Linked DNA regions of Homo sapiens: regions 1 and 2 are each linked to region 3. The links come from fine-mapping of genetic effects on gene expression. A gene starts in region 3. Each other region holds a variant in brackets. All regions are shown on one strand. Distances are from middle to middle.

What was found. PIP is the estimated chance that this variant, and not a neighbour inherited with it, causes the effect. A credible set is the group of variants that fine-mapping cannot tell apart.
Region 1: its variant is the best candidate, but not a certain one, in a credible set for the expression of VNN2 in whole blood (INTERVAL, PIP 0.71).
Region 2: its variant is the best candidate, but not a certain one, in a credible set for the expression of VNN2 in monocytes after Pam3CSK4 (Quach 2016, PIP 0.88).

Annotation. Positions count from the first base shown.
Region 1 is chr6:132,803,841-132,808,084 of GRCh38, forward strand. It overlaps LOC107986644 (a long non-coding RNA gene), which reads right to left. Exons shown (of 3, transcript XR_001744345.3): 2 at 858-1,111; 3 at 518-748. Among named protein-coding and RNA genes, the nearest start is that of SLC18B1, 7.3 kb to the left of the region's middle. The variant T/C (reference allele first, on the strand shown) is at 1,773.
Region 2 is chr6:132,716,839-132,721,082 of GRCh38, forward strand. No RefSeq gene overlaps it. Among named protein-coding and RNA genes, the nearest start is that of VNN1, 4.9 kb to the left of the region's middle. The variant A/G (reference allele first, on the strand shown) is at 2,038.
Region 3 is chr6:132,755,580-132,759,823 of GRCh38, forward strand. VNN2 (vanin 2) reads right to left here and starts at 2,325. Exons shown (of 7, transcript NM_004665.6): 1 at 2,092-2,325; 2 at 1,837-1,967; 3 at 264-456. The coding sequence starts at 2,304.

The DNA.
Region 1 (4,244 bases), 48 kb after region 3:
AATAGTACTTCTGCGTCTATTGTACATGGTTTTTTCTTTATTCTGTTAATTTAATAAATTACACTGATCAGTGGTCTAATGCTAATTGTCTAATGTTAACTTTGGATTCTTGAGATAAATCTTGCTTGGTCAAGATGTATTCTCTTTTCTTATATATTGCTGGATCAATTTGCTAATATTTTGTTAGAGGTTTTTTTTGTCTATGTTTATGAGTAATGTTGATCTGTAATTTCTTTTTATTTTCTTTTGTCAGGCTTTGGTAGTAAGTAATTCTGCACTCATAAAACAAGTCGAAAACTTCCCCTCCTCTGGTATTAACATGTATTAATTTGAGAAGATACTCTACTTACATATAAGGTAAGTATTGATGGGGTTGGGTTTACGTCTACCATTTTACTATTTGTTTTATATCTTCCCATCTGTTTTTTACTCATTTGTTTCTTCTTCTTCTTCTTTTTTTTTTTTTTTTACCTTATTTTGGCTTAATTAGAAAAAAAGAGATTTTGGAATTCCATTGTAATTTGTATGTTATCATTTTACCTATATTTCTTTCAACTATTTTTAGTCATTGCTTAGGAATTACAATACACACATTCTTAATTTTTTTTGTCCACTTAGCATTAATATTGTAGCACTTCATGGAAAATGTAAGAACCTTGCAGACTGTTAGACTCATACAGGTGGCCTTACCCAGCAGCCACCTCTTCTCTCTTCATCCTTCATTCTTTAGTTGTCATACGCATTATATCTATGAAGACACAAAGTTCATCATGCAATATTATAATTTTTACTTTAGATAGCTATATGTACTATTTAATCAAAAAGAAAAATAGTCTGAAATTTACCCACATATTTACCATTTTCAGTGTTCTTCATTCCTTCTAGAACATCTAAATTTTCCATCTGATATCATTTTTCTTCGACATGAGTAACTTTCTGTAACATTTCTTCAAGTATGAGTCTTCTGGTGATGAGTTCTGTTAGTTTTTGTTTAGCTCTGAATGTCATCATTTTGTCTTCATTCTGGAAGAGCCTTTCATTGAATATAGAAATATGGGTAGCAAGTTGTCTTTCAGCCCTTTCAAGATGTGGTTCTGTTTTCATTTGGCTCCTATTTTTTGAGAGAAATTAGTGGAATTTTGTATTATTGGTCTCCTGTATGTAATGTGTCTTTTTCCCCATAAATGCCACTGTAATTTTAACTTTGAGTTTTAATATCTCACTTATGATATGCCTAGGGTTGTATACGTGTGTGTATTTATTCTTCTCAGGGTTCACTGAGCTTCTTGAATCTGAATTTATGTGTTTCACCAAATGTGGGAAGCTTTTGAACATTATTTTCTTTCTTTCTCTCTCTCTCTCCTTTCTCTCTCTCTGTCTCTGTCTTTTTCTTTTTCTTTTCTTCTAGATGGAATTTCACTCTTGTTGCCCAGGCTGGAGTGCAATGGCATGATCTTGGCTCACTGCAACCTCTGCCTTCCAGGTTTTAAGCGAGTCTCCTGCCTCAGCCTCCTGAGTAGCTGAGATTACAAGAATGCTCCACCATGCCCAGCTAATATTGTATTTTTAGTAGAGATGGAGTTTAACCAAGTTAGTCAGGCTGGTCTCAAACTCCTGACTTCAGGTGATCCGCCCACCTCGGCCTCCCAAAGTGTTGGGATTACAGGTGTGAGCCATTGTGCCCAGTCTTATTTCTTTAAATATTGTTTCCTCCCTCATTTTGTTGCCTTCTGGCACCCCAACTGCCTATATGTTAGTCTTGTGTATTCTAA[T/C]TGAGTATATGTTAGACCTTTAAATTTTGCCCAACAGATCATTGCAGCTCTATACATTTTTTTTTCAATTGGCTTTTTCCCTCTCTATTGGATAATTTCGGATTTATTTAAAGTTTACTGACTCTTTCATCATCTCCAATCTATTGCTGAACCCTTCCAGTAAATTTTTTATTTCTCATATTTTACTTTTTAGTTTTCGAATATCTATTTGATACTCTTTTATGGTTTATACTTTTCCTATTTATTCATTCATTATGAACATTTTTTACATTCTTAATCATATTTTTAATGGCTGCTTTAAAATTCTTGTCTGCTACTTCTAACATATGATCATCTTGGGATCCTTTTCTCTTGAGTATGAGTCATGTTTTCTAGTTTTTTGGTATACAGCATAATTTTGGATCATATCGAAGACATTGTTAATGATACATTGCAGAGATTCTGGATTCTGTTACATTCTTCCAAAGAATATTAATTTTAAAAAAGAATTTAGCAGAGAGTTTACCTGCCTTGACTCAAACTTCATGTTTCTCCAGTGATGGGAAAAGCAGCAGCTGTAATCTCTGTGCATTTTGTTTAGCCTTACCTGTGTTGCTTGGAGGTTTTTTTTTCTTTTTCTTTTTTCTAACATGGAGTCTCGCTCTGTCACCCAGGCTGGAGCGCAATGGCACAATCTCAGCTCACTGCAACGTCCACCTCCTGGGTTCAAGTAATTCTCCTGCCTCAGCATCCTGAGTAGCTAGGATTACAGGGATGCGCCACCATGCCTGGCTATTTTTTTTATTTTTAGTAGAGACGGCGTTTCACCATGTTGGTCAGGCTGGTCTTGAACTCCTGACATTGTGATCCACCCACCTCAGCCTCCCAAAGTGCTGGGATTACAGGCATAAGCCACTGTGCTACCCCATGTGTGTGTAGTTCAGAGCTCAGCCAGAGATTGAGGCAGAGTATACACGGAAAATTCTGGTTTTCCCCTCTCTGGCTCTCTCCTTTCTGGGATTTCCCTCCTTTCTTCAATTTCCAGTGCCATGGTTATTCTGAACTCTTGTGATGGTTAATACTGAGTGTCAACTTGACTGGATTGAAGGATACAAAGTATTGATCCTGGGTGTGTCTGTGAGGGTGTTGTCAAAGGAGATTAACATTTGAGTCAGTGGGCCGGAAAAGGAAGACCCACCCTTAATCTGGGTGGGCACAATCTAATCAGCTGCCAGTGTGGCTAGAATATAAGCAGGTAGAAAATGTGAAAAGAGAAACTGGCTTAGCCTCTCAGCCTATATCTTTCTCCCATGCTGGATGCTTCTTGCCCTTGAACATCGGACTCCAAGTTCTTCAGTTTTGGATCTCAGACTGGTTCTCCTTGCTCCTCAACCTGCAGATGGCCTATTGTGGGACATTGTGATTGTGTGAGTTAATACTTAATAAACTCACCTTATATATGGGTCGGGTGCAGTGGCTCATGCCTGTAATCCCAGCACTTTGGGAGGCTGACGTGTGTGGACCACCTGAAGTTACAAGTTTGAGACCAGACTGGCCAACATGGTGAAACCCCGTCTCTACTAAAAATATAAAAATTAGCCAGGCGTGGTGGCGCATGCCTGTAATCCCAGCTACTCAGGAGGCTGAGGCAGGAGAATTGCTTGAACCCAAGAGGCGGAGGTTGCAGTGAGCCAAGATCATGCCATTGCACTCCAGCCTGGGCAACACAGCAAAACTCTGTCTCAAAAAATATACATATACATATATATATATAGAGAATATATATTATATTTTATATATATGGAATATATATAAAATATAATATATATTCCATTAGTTCTGTCCTTCTAGAGAACACTGACTAATAGAACTCTGTTCTCTGGTTTTTTTAAGGCATTACAACTGAGGAACTCTATTAGTTGTTCCGTGTAGCACTGACTAAGGGTCTCCTCGTGCTAACACTCATAAAAATGGAAAATCATCCAGTGTCATTCCTTCTTCTTAGTGTTGGTCCTCACACCTATCCCCTAGTTCCGTCTGCTTTTGGTCACTCTCCAGTGTCTTCAGGTAGTTATTTTTTGTTTTGTTTTGTAACATTTTCAGAGTTACATTAGTTATCTGCAAGAAGGTTAGTCTTGCAGAACCTCCTAGTAATTAATATTTGTTGTATTTTATTAAACTAATAATCTTTGATGGATTGGGTGAAAAATCCTCTGATAGTCATTTTATAAAGCACTGCCTTAAGAGGCTTTTGATCAGGTCCTATAACCAAGACCCCTGGAACTATTCCATTCCTACCATTCCCTAGACCTGACTTCTCAAACAAACCGTTCTATTCTTACCATTCCCTAGACCTGACTGCTCAAACAAACTGTTCTATTCTTACTATTCCCTAGACCTGACTGCTCAAACAAACTGTTCTGTTCTCTGAGCCATCCAGTACATTTCTAATAAATTCATTTTTTAAATGTTGGCCACAGCTCATTCCATTGC
Region 2 (4,244 bases), 39 kb before region 3:
CTGAGAGCAAATCTTCAGATGAAATAATGCAGTTCGGCCAGGCGCGGTGGCTCATGCCTATAATCCCAGCACTTTGTGAGGCCGAGACGGGAGGATCACCAAAGGTCAGGAGTTTGAGATGAGCCTGACCAACATGGAGAAACCCTGTCTCTACTAAAAATACAAAAATTAGCTGGGCATGGAAGGGAGCAGTGTGGGGGGCGGGGGCGCCTATAATCCAGATACTCGGGAGGCTGAAGCAGGAAAATTGCTTGAACCCGGGAGGCGGAGGTTGCCTCGAGCCGAGATTGCGCCATTGCACTCCAGCTTGGTGATAGAGTGAGACTCCGTCTCAAAAAAAAGAAAGAAAGAAAGAAAGAAATAGAAATAGAAACAGTGCAGTTCTTGCAGTAGAGTATCATCAGCAGGACATGGAACTGGGAGGCACCAGCAGCCTCTACTACAACTCCTAGGCTGGTTCTCTGGATCCTTAACCCTACTGCTACAGCCAGCCAAGGTCCCCAAATGCAGCCCTTCTGCTCACACAAAGTAGAAACTGGGAGAATTGTCTCCAAGGAAATGACTTTGAGTGTAGACAAAAGCCCTAATTGATACCTCCAGACTCCTCCAACCAAACTTGCATAGATGGAGCAGATTGCCTTTTGCAAGGAAAACATGACATCGCACTGTCCAGAATAGGGCAAGACCCACAGTATTCTGGATTTTGCTAGCACAGCAGTGATCACCCCACCCCAGGCAGCAGGTCCCCAGAGGAACTCAGAAGCAAGTCCTGCCCAGCTTACGCAGAGAGAACCAGAAACAAGGGAAAAGGAGGGAAGAGCAAGGACTGAGTGGAGTGGGCACTGCCTCTTGCACTTCACCTGGTGAACTCTGAAAAGCCATGTGCACAGCATGTAAAAGTGTGTCCATATACTTGTGTCTGATAAAAGATTGATTGGCAGTCGGCCTCTGCATTGCTACTCAAAATATACGCCCATATTTTAATATTTAGTGGCTACAACACAATGTCAATTCTTTTGTTGACATTAATCTGGTTTTAGGAGAAACAATCCATTTTTCCTCTGGTCTCATAGCACAACAACTAACACAAAAGACTGGTTACTCCCAAGTAGGTGGAGATTTCTCCCCACTAGAAAGCAAGCAATTGACTCTGCATCAGACATCAGCTGGCTATCTTCCAGTTCAATCCAAATACTATTTATCCAAAGATAGCATCAGATCCCACATGTTAAGGGCTCAGTCCCACAAAACCGCCCCCTCCTTCCCACCAGTAACAAGTCTGGGCTTCCAGATCTTCCGACCAAATGGCTCTGGGTTGGGGTTTCCATGACCCCTTTTTTTTTTAGTTCAATTAGTTTGCTAGAGTGGCTCACAGAACTCAGGGAAACACTTACCTTTAGTGGCTTATTGTAAAGGATATTACAAAGGATACAAATGAAGAGGTGCATAGAGCAAGGTATGGGGGAAGGACTGGAGAGCCTTCCACGCACCCCTAGGTGTGCCACCCTCCAGGAACCCTCCACGTGTTCAGCTGTAAGGAAACTCTCCGAACCCTGTCCTTTTGGGTTTTTATGGAAGCTTCATTACATAGTCACGATTGACAACCATGTAGAAATGCGATTGGACAAAAAGGTTATGATCCCATACTAACAGTTTGAGTGGGGAAACCCAGTAAAGCTTGTCTGTTCAGGTTTGTCTTGACATCTCTTTATAGCATTTCTTCCTCTAGGGTATGGGGTGGGACCCTCTCTGAAATGAGGGTCTTTTGAGCCACAATCAGATTATAGTCCTGCCTTAGGTAGGTAAAGGGAGGACAGGGTAAGGTCAGAGAGGGAGATTCTGTTTCATGAGGCCTGCTCCTGAGGCCTAAAACCCCCTAATGTTAAAACAAACAAACAAACAAAAAAAAAACCCTAACAAAGGATATGGGAGTTATAAGCCAGGAACTGTAATATCACAAGTTGCTAATGTTACAATAATACATATCTCTGCATAGGACTTAATAAAACTATTTTTGCATTGTTAATGTAGCCTGTA[A/G]ACATGATGATGTGGCTTGAACTTGCTCTCATGAAAGAAAAAATTTTTTTGTTTACCAGTGAGTTATACTCTGCTGTATCAGAAATATTAATTAAAGCCATAAGAGTGGCTTCACTATCCATAGAAAGATTTTAGATAAGGAAGATACAGCTGTGAGAGCTGAGTCTAGCAGAGTGCATCATTTATATCAATGACAAACAAAATAAATGTGGTTGGAGGAGGGAGAAGAGACAAAAAGGTCAACGAAAATAAAAAGCGAAAGGCATTAAAGTGTGGGGGGTAAAATTACTCCAAGAAGTACAGGCTTAGTAAGAGCTGAGAACTGACCATGAGATTTGACTTTTTTTTTTTTAGACAAGGTCTCACTCTATTGCCCAGGCTGGAGGGCAGTGGTACAATCTTGGCTCACTGCAGCCTCTATCTCCTGGGCTCAAGTAATCCTCCAACTCCTGAGCTCAAGTGATCCTCCCACCCCAGCCTCTCCAGTAGCTGGGATCACACTAGCATACTCGGCTAATTTGCTGTTGTTGTTATTGTTTGTAGAGACAGGGTTTTGCCATATTGTCCAGGCTGGTCTCAAACTCCTTGGCTCAAGCCATCTGCCTGCTTTGTCCTTCCAAAGTGCTGAGATTACAGGTGTGAGTTATGGTAGCCTGCCCCGAGATTTGATTTTAAAGTTCCTTTTAATAAAGAGGGGGGCAGGAGTCAGCTTACATAAAAATGCCATGAGGTGAGAGGTGCCAAGGAAGCTGGGGCAACCAGAGTACATAATGCAGCCTACAGACAACTGGCTTAGGAAAGAGAAGAAAGAATTCTAGAAGGAACAAATGTAAGGCGATAAAGAGGGAAGATGCCCACCTACTGCACACAGAGGAATCGGGGGCACAAACCTAAGATCCGAGAGTGATAGTCCCTGAAGAGAGAATCCAGGAAAAATGGGAGGGGGAAACCGAGTGCATTTTCTGCCACCCAGAATATCTCTGACTTACTGGTACTGGACTGAATTATAGCAGGTGGAAATAAACACCTAGGAAAAGTTCAGAAATGCGTTTGTCAAACATTCTGTGGACAAAGAGGTGTCTCCTACATAACCCAGAGAACCCAGCTGCTCTTCAGCATATCTCTTTCCAGAGTTAATCAGTGACCAACCAGAAAAATGACTAAGAGAGCCAAGACAGTGGGCCAGAGGTATCTGGGGAAAAGGTGACATGGTGGTCCTGTCTAGGAAGCTCCCAGCCTGGCACAGCCTGCAATAAACCCCTGACCACTGAGAAGGGCTCAACCAAGATTGGGTAGATTTCAGAACAGAATAATTTCAGAAGGAAATGAGATGTGATCTGAACGACATAATTTATTTTATTTATTTATTTATTTATTTATTTATTTATTTATTTTTTGAGACGGAGTTTTGCTTTTCTTGCCCCAGGCTGGAGTGCAATGATGCGGTCTCAGCTCACTGCAACCTCCGCCTCCTGGATTCAAGTGATTCTCCTGTCTCAGCCTCCCGAGTAGCTGGGATTACAGGCACGCACCACCACCCCCAACTAATTTTTGTATTTTTAGTAGAGATGGGGTTTCACAGTGTTGGCCAGGCTGGTCTCAAACTCCTGACCTCAGGTGATCTGTCCACCTCAGCTTCCCAAAGTGCTGGAATTACAGGTGTGAGCCACCGCACCCAGCTGACCTAATTTATTTTTCAAAAAATTTCTGTTTTGGCTGGCCCTGTGGCTCACACCTGTAATCTCAGCACTTTGGGAGGCCAAGGATAGCAAATCACTTGAGGTCAGGAGTTCAAGACCAGCCTGGCCTGGCCAACATGATGAAACCCCATCTCTACCAAAAATATAAAAAATTAGCCAGATGTGGTGGCGTGTGCCTGAAGTCCCAGCTACTTGGGAGGATGAGGCAGGAGAATCACTTGAACCAGGGATGAAGGGGACCAGCCCCTCCATGCCTATGGGTATTTCTCGTCAGATGGGATAAGAGACTGAGAAAAGAAATAAGACACAGAGACAAAGTATAGAGAAAGAATAGTGGGCCCAGGGGACCGGCGCTCAGCATACAGAGGACCCGCATGGGTACCGGTCTCTGAGTTCCCTCAGTATTTATTGATTACTATTTTCATTATCTCAGCAAGGGGAATGCGGCAGGAGAACAGGGTGATAGTGGGGAGAAGGTCAGCAAGAAAACATGTGAGCAAAGGAATC
Region 3 (4,244 bases):
GGCCAGACTGGTCTCAAATTCCTGGCCTCAAGTGATCCACCTGCCTCAGCCTCCCAAAGTGCTGGGCTTACAGGCATAAGCCTCCACGCCCAGCCAAAAGTGTCATTTTCTTTATTGCCCACTTTCAAAAAACAAAAAACAAAACAAAACAAAAAAACCCTCTAGTAATATTGTATCATATAGGGAATGAAATTCAAACTCCTAAACCCAGCATTGACCACTCACAACACGCTCCATTTTACACGTCCGTCACTCTCTCTTACCTTATGGTAACGTGCCACGAGTTTTCCTTCTGTATTATACACCACATTGGTATTGTATTGAAAGTAGCCATTAGGAGGACATGTGGAGTCACGGGAATTACATGGCTTTTTGTCCCCCAAATTTGCCAAGACATAGATAGAGTTGTCCTTGGCCAGGCAGCTGAGTCTTGCTTGTACTGGTGTGTGACCAAATCTAAACCAAATTATAATTAAGAAATTTCAATTTTAAAAAAATATTTTAGTCACTTTATATGGAAACGATAGCAACTGTAACCACTTAAGTGGAACTTAAGTTAATACAAAAACTATGCCTAAAAATATCATACTTTAAAAGCCACAGATGATTATACACTTGATGAATGCTTCCCACACGGTATCTATTGCTCCAGAAATTCATTATTCGGTCTCCTGCCTCATCAAGGGTCTCCTCTCTACTGAAACATCCCATCAGCAATGAAATATCCTCTAGTACCTCCCATCTTTAAAAAATAAAATTAAAACCTCTTTTGACCTTTCCAAACATGCCCTTCCAAATATTGCTTTAATCCTCATCTCTCTCTTAAAGCAAAACTCCTCAAAAGATCAGTCCCTCTTGCTGTTGCCAGTTCCTCCTCTCCCATTCCCTTTCAGAGCACTCCAACTTGTATCTCTATCACCCAAACTCTTACTAATGCCAGCAGTGACCCCCACATTTTACCTGATCTCATCTTAACTTTTCAACAGCAGTTGGCACAGTTAATTACACCTCCTTCTGGAAACACCTCACTTCTCTATTGGACCCACCCTCTCATTTTCCTATTTATTGGTTGCTCTTCTTCGACTCTTCTGCTGATTCCTCGTTTTCTTCCGAGTCTAAACACTAGAATTTCCTAGTGCTCAAGCCTTATACCTAAACTCTTCTCTAACTCACTCCACAGGTGAACTCATCATGGTGTTTAACACCATCTATATGCTGACATTTGATTTTCTATCTCCAGATATAATTTTGTCTTTTCATGCCAGACTTGTCCATGCAACTGCCACGTTGACACCTCCAGGATGACAGTAGGACCCAGATTTTTAATATATATTAGAAGGTTTCTAGATAACCTTTTCCCAGGAAAATTAGATTTGTGAGCCTAGGAAAATGCAGTTTCAAAGCATAAGGTCTTATGATTCACTTGAAAATACATGGTGAAGTCTTTCTGCCTAAGAAGCAACTCTGGAATGGAGAGACTCTATAACATTGAAAGGGTGTCCCTTCAGCAGAGGCTTTGGAATGTATTCCTAACACAATCCACTGTCTACTTCAGAAATTAAGTTACTACTTGTATCTATGAGATCTCTTCCCTTAGTTTTTCTTGCAGGAATACCCTATTTACACATTTTCTCAAAATTTAATAAAGATTTTCAATCACAAAAGATTGTTAAATAGTATCTAAGTACAATTTTTTAAAATCTGACAAATGTTGAGATAAATATAACCATAACATATACCACATATATGGTAATTCAAGAGCAATCATTTTGCTTTGGTGAACGTGCGCATTTTAGAGAGTTACTTTTGCACAAAAGACTAAGATAGTTAAAATACCTGTGGGGGTCTTGACACGGAATCCAGTTCACCTGAGGGTCTGGGATATCCTCCAGATAAGGGAAAACAGTTTCCCTGGTAAATTTCCATCCATAAAGTGCATCTTCTGGAGTCACAATGATTCGAGCACCCTGTTCAAAACAAGCAAAATAAAAATGATTTTTCCATGTACAACACAGACAATTCAGCTCTCTCGTCTTCCACCAGCTCCCATGCCCCTCGTGTACATTATGATTAACAGAAATAAGAGAATACCTGCTCAGCTGCCTGCTTGATCGCTGTCTCCAGAATGTCTATATTCTCGTTCATGAGATTCAAGGCATCCTCCTGAGAAACTGGTGTTTCTGTTTTATTTGGCAAAATGACAGCATGTTCATACACTGCAGCTATAAAACTGTCCTGAGTACCAACCTGCAGGGTTATTAGGGCAAAAACTGCCACAGAGATTGGAAAAGAGGAAGTGACCATGGCCAAGGTTTAGTGATTTCTGAAAGCAAAAATAACATTCATGTAGTATTTACAGAGGGGAGAATGTTTGCATAACATGTGGCTGCCAGTTACTGGCCTTTTACTTTATCATCATTTTTCTTCTTCTTCTTCTTCTTCTTCTTCTTCTTCTTCTTCTTTTTTTTTTTTTTTTTTTTTTTTGAGGCGGAGTTTGCTCTGTCACCCAGGCTGGAATGCAGTGGCGCAAGCTCAGCTCACTACAACTTCCACCTCCCAGGTTCAAGCGATTGTCCTTCTTCAGTCTCTGAAACAGCTAGGACTACAGGTGCGCGCCACCACGTCCAGCTAATTTTTGTATTTTTAGTAGAGATGGGGTTTCACAATATTGGCCAGGCTGGTCTCAAACTCCTGATCTTGTGATCCATCCACCTCAGCCTCTCAAAGTGCTGGGATTACAGGCGTGAGCCACTGCACTTGGCCTACTTTATAATCTTAAGAACGCAATATATCTGACCACTTTTAAAGAAAGAAAAGTTGCAGTCCATTTAAGACAATCAGAAAGTATTACAGGGATTGAACAGCATGTACTATTAGTACTAAGATTTAATATTGAATTTCCAAAAGACACCCGAATTCAAATATAGAACAATTCCAGCTTTTGTTAATAGAAACTCATAACTAACTCTCGTGTAAAAAAATCACATCCCAACAAATATCTCATTTATTAAATTTAAAAATTGACAACAATTTTTTTGGTTCTGTTGAGTCACTTACATTGTGTTTATTTTTAGACGGGGGGGAAAATATTAAATACTTACTACTAAGAAAATGTAACACAGGACAATATTGATAACAAAATTTACCCAAATCTACACTCTGACTTACTTATTGCTATTAAGGACTGAAAACATGTGCTCCAGAAAAGCAGGATTTTGTGTCTGGTTTGTTCACTGCTGTATAGTTAGTGCCTACAGCAACAATACCCCGAGGCACCTAGGCCAGAGGAGGAATCTCAGCTCAGGGGCCCCAGGCCTCAGGATACTCCGCTTCTTTCCTTCTTTCTCTCTTTCACCCTTCCCTCCCCATCCTCCCCCTACTTCTCCTTCTCCTCCTACTCCTTCTCCTCCTTCTTTTTCCTCCCTCCCCACCCCCTGCTTTGGAGGAAGATGCCAGGGAAGGGGAAGAGTCCAGGATTGGTGATAAAGATCATCTGTGTTGTAATAAGGAGAAGATGTAACTTACATTTTTGTTAGCAGCAAATAACAACAATGAGTTTAAAAACAATGCTAACAGGCCAGGTGCAGTGGCTCATGCCTGTAATCCTAGCACTTTGGGAGGCCGAGGCAGGCAGATCACCTGAGGTCAGGAGTTCAAGACCAGCCTGGCCAACATAGTGGAACCCCCCATCTCTACCAAAAACACAAAAAGTAGCTGGTCGTGGTGGTGGGCGCCTGTAATCCCAGCTACTCGGGAGGCTGAGGCAGGAGAATCGCTGGAACCCAGGAGGCAGAGGCTGCAGTGAGCTGAGATCACACCATTGCGCTCCAGGCTGGGCGACAGAGCGAAACTCCGTCTCAAAAAAAAAAAAAAAAAAAAAAACAATAATAACAACAAATACAGGATGTGATCTCAGATGCCTTCTTAGGACATTCATATTCTCCCTTCCCCAGGCCCAATCCTGCCAAATAAAGGATTTGTTTTATTTTTATCCAGCCCTTTGGTAAAAGTCACGGAAATGCTTTTAGACAGCATAGAAGAGTAGGTACGATTAAACAAAGTTTATTCTGTGCTTTCCTTCTTACTGAGATAAATGTTTTGTTAAGAATGGGGCCTAGGGGCTATAAATAAGATCTGCTCATATTTTCTGCTTTGAATAGAAGTTTCTATTAAAGGAATAACTTTTCTTATCTCTATAGAGCAGAAAACTAAAAATAATTCAGGAAAAATGGTCAAGCCCTTTT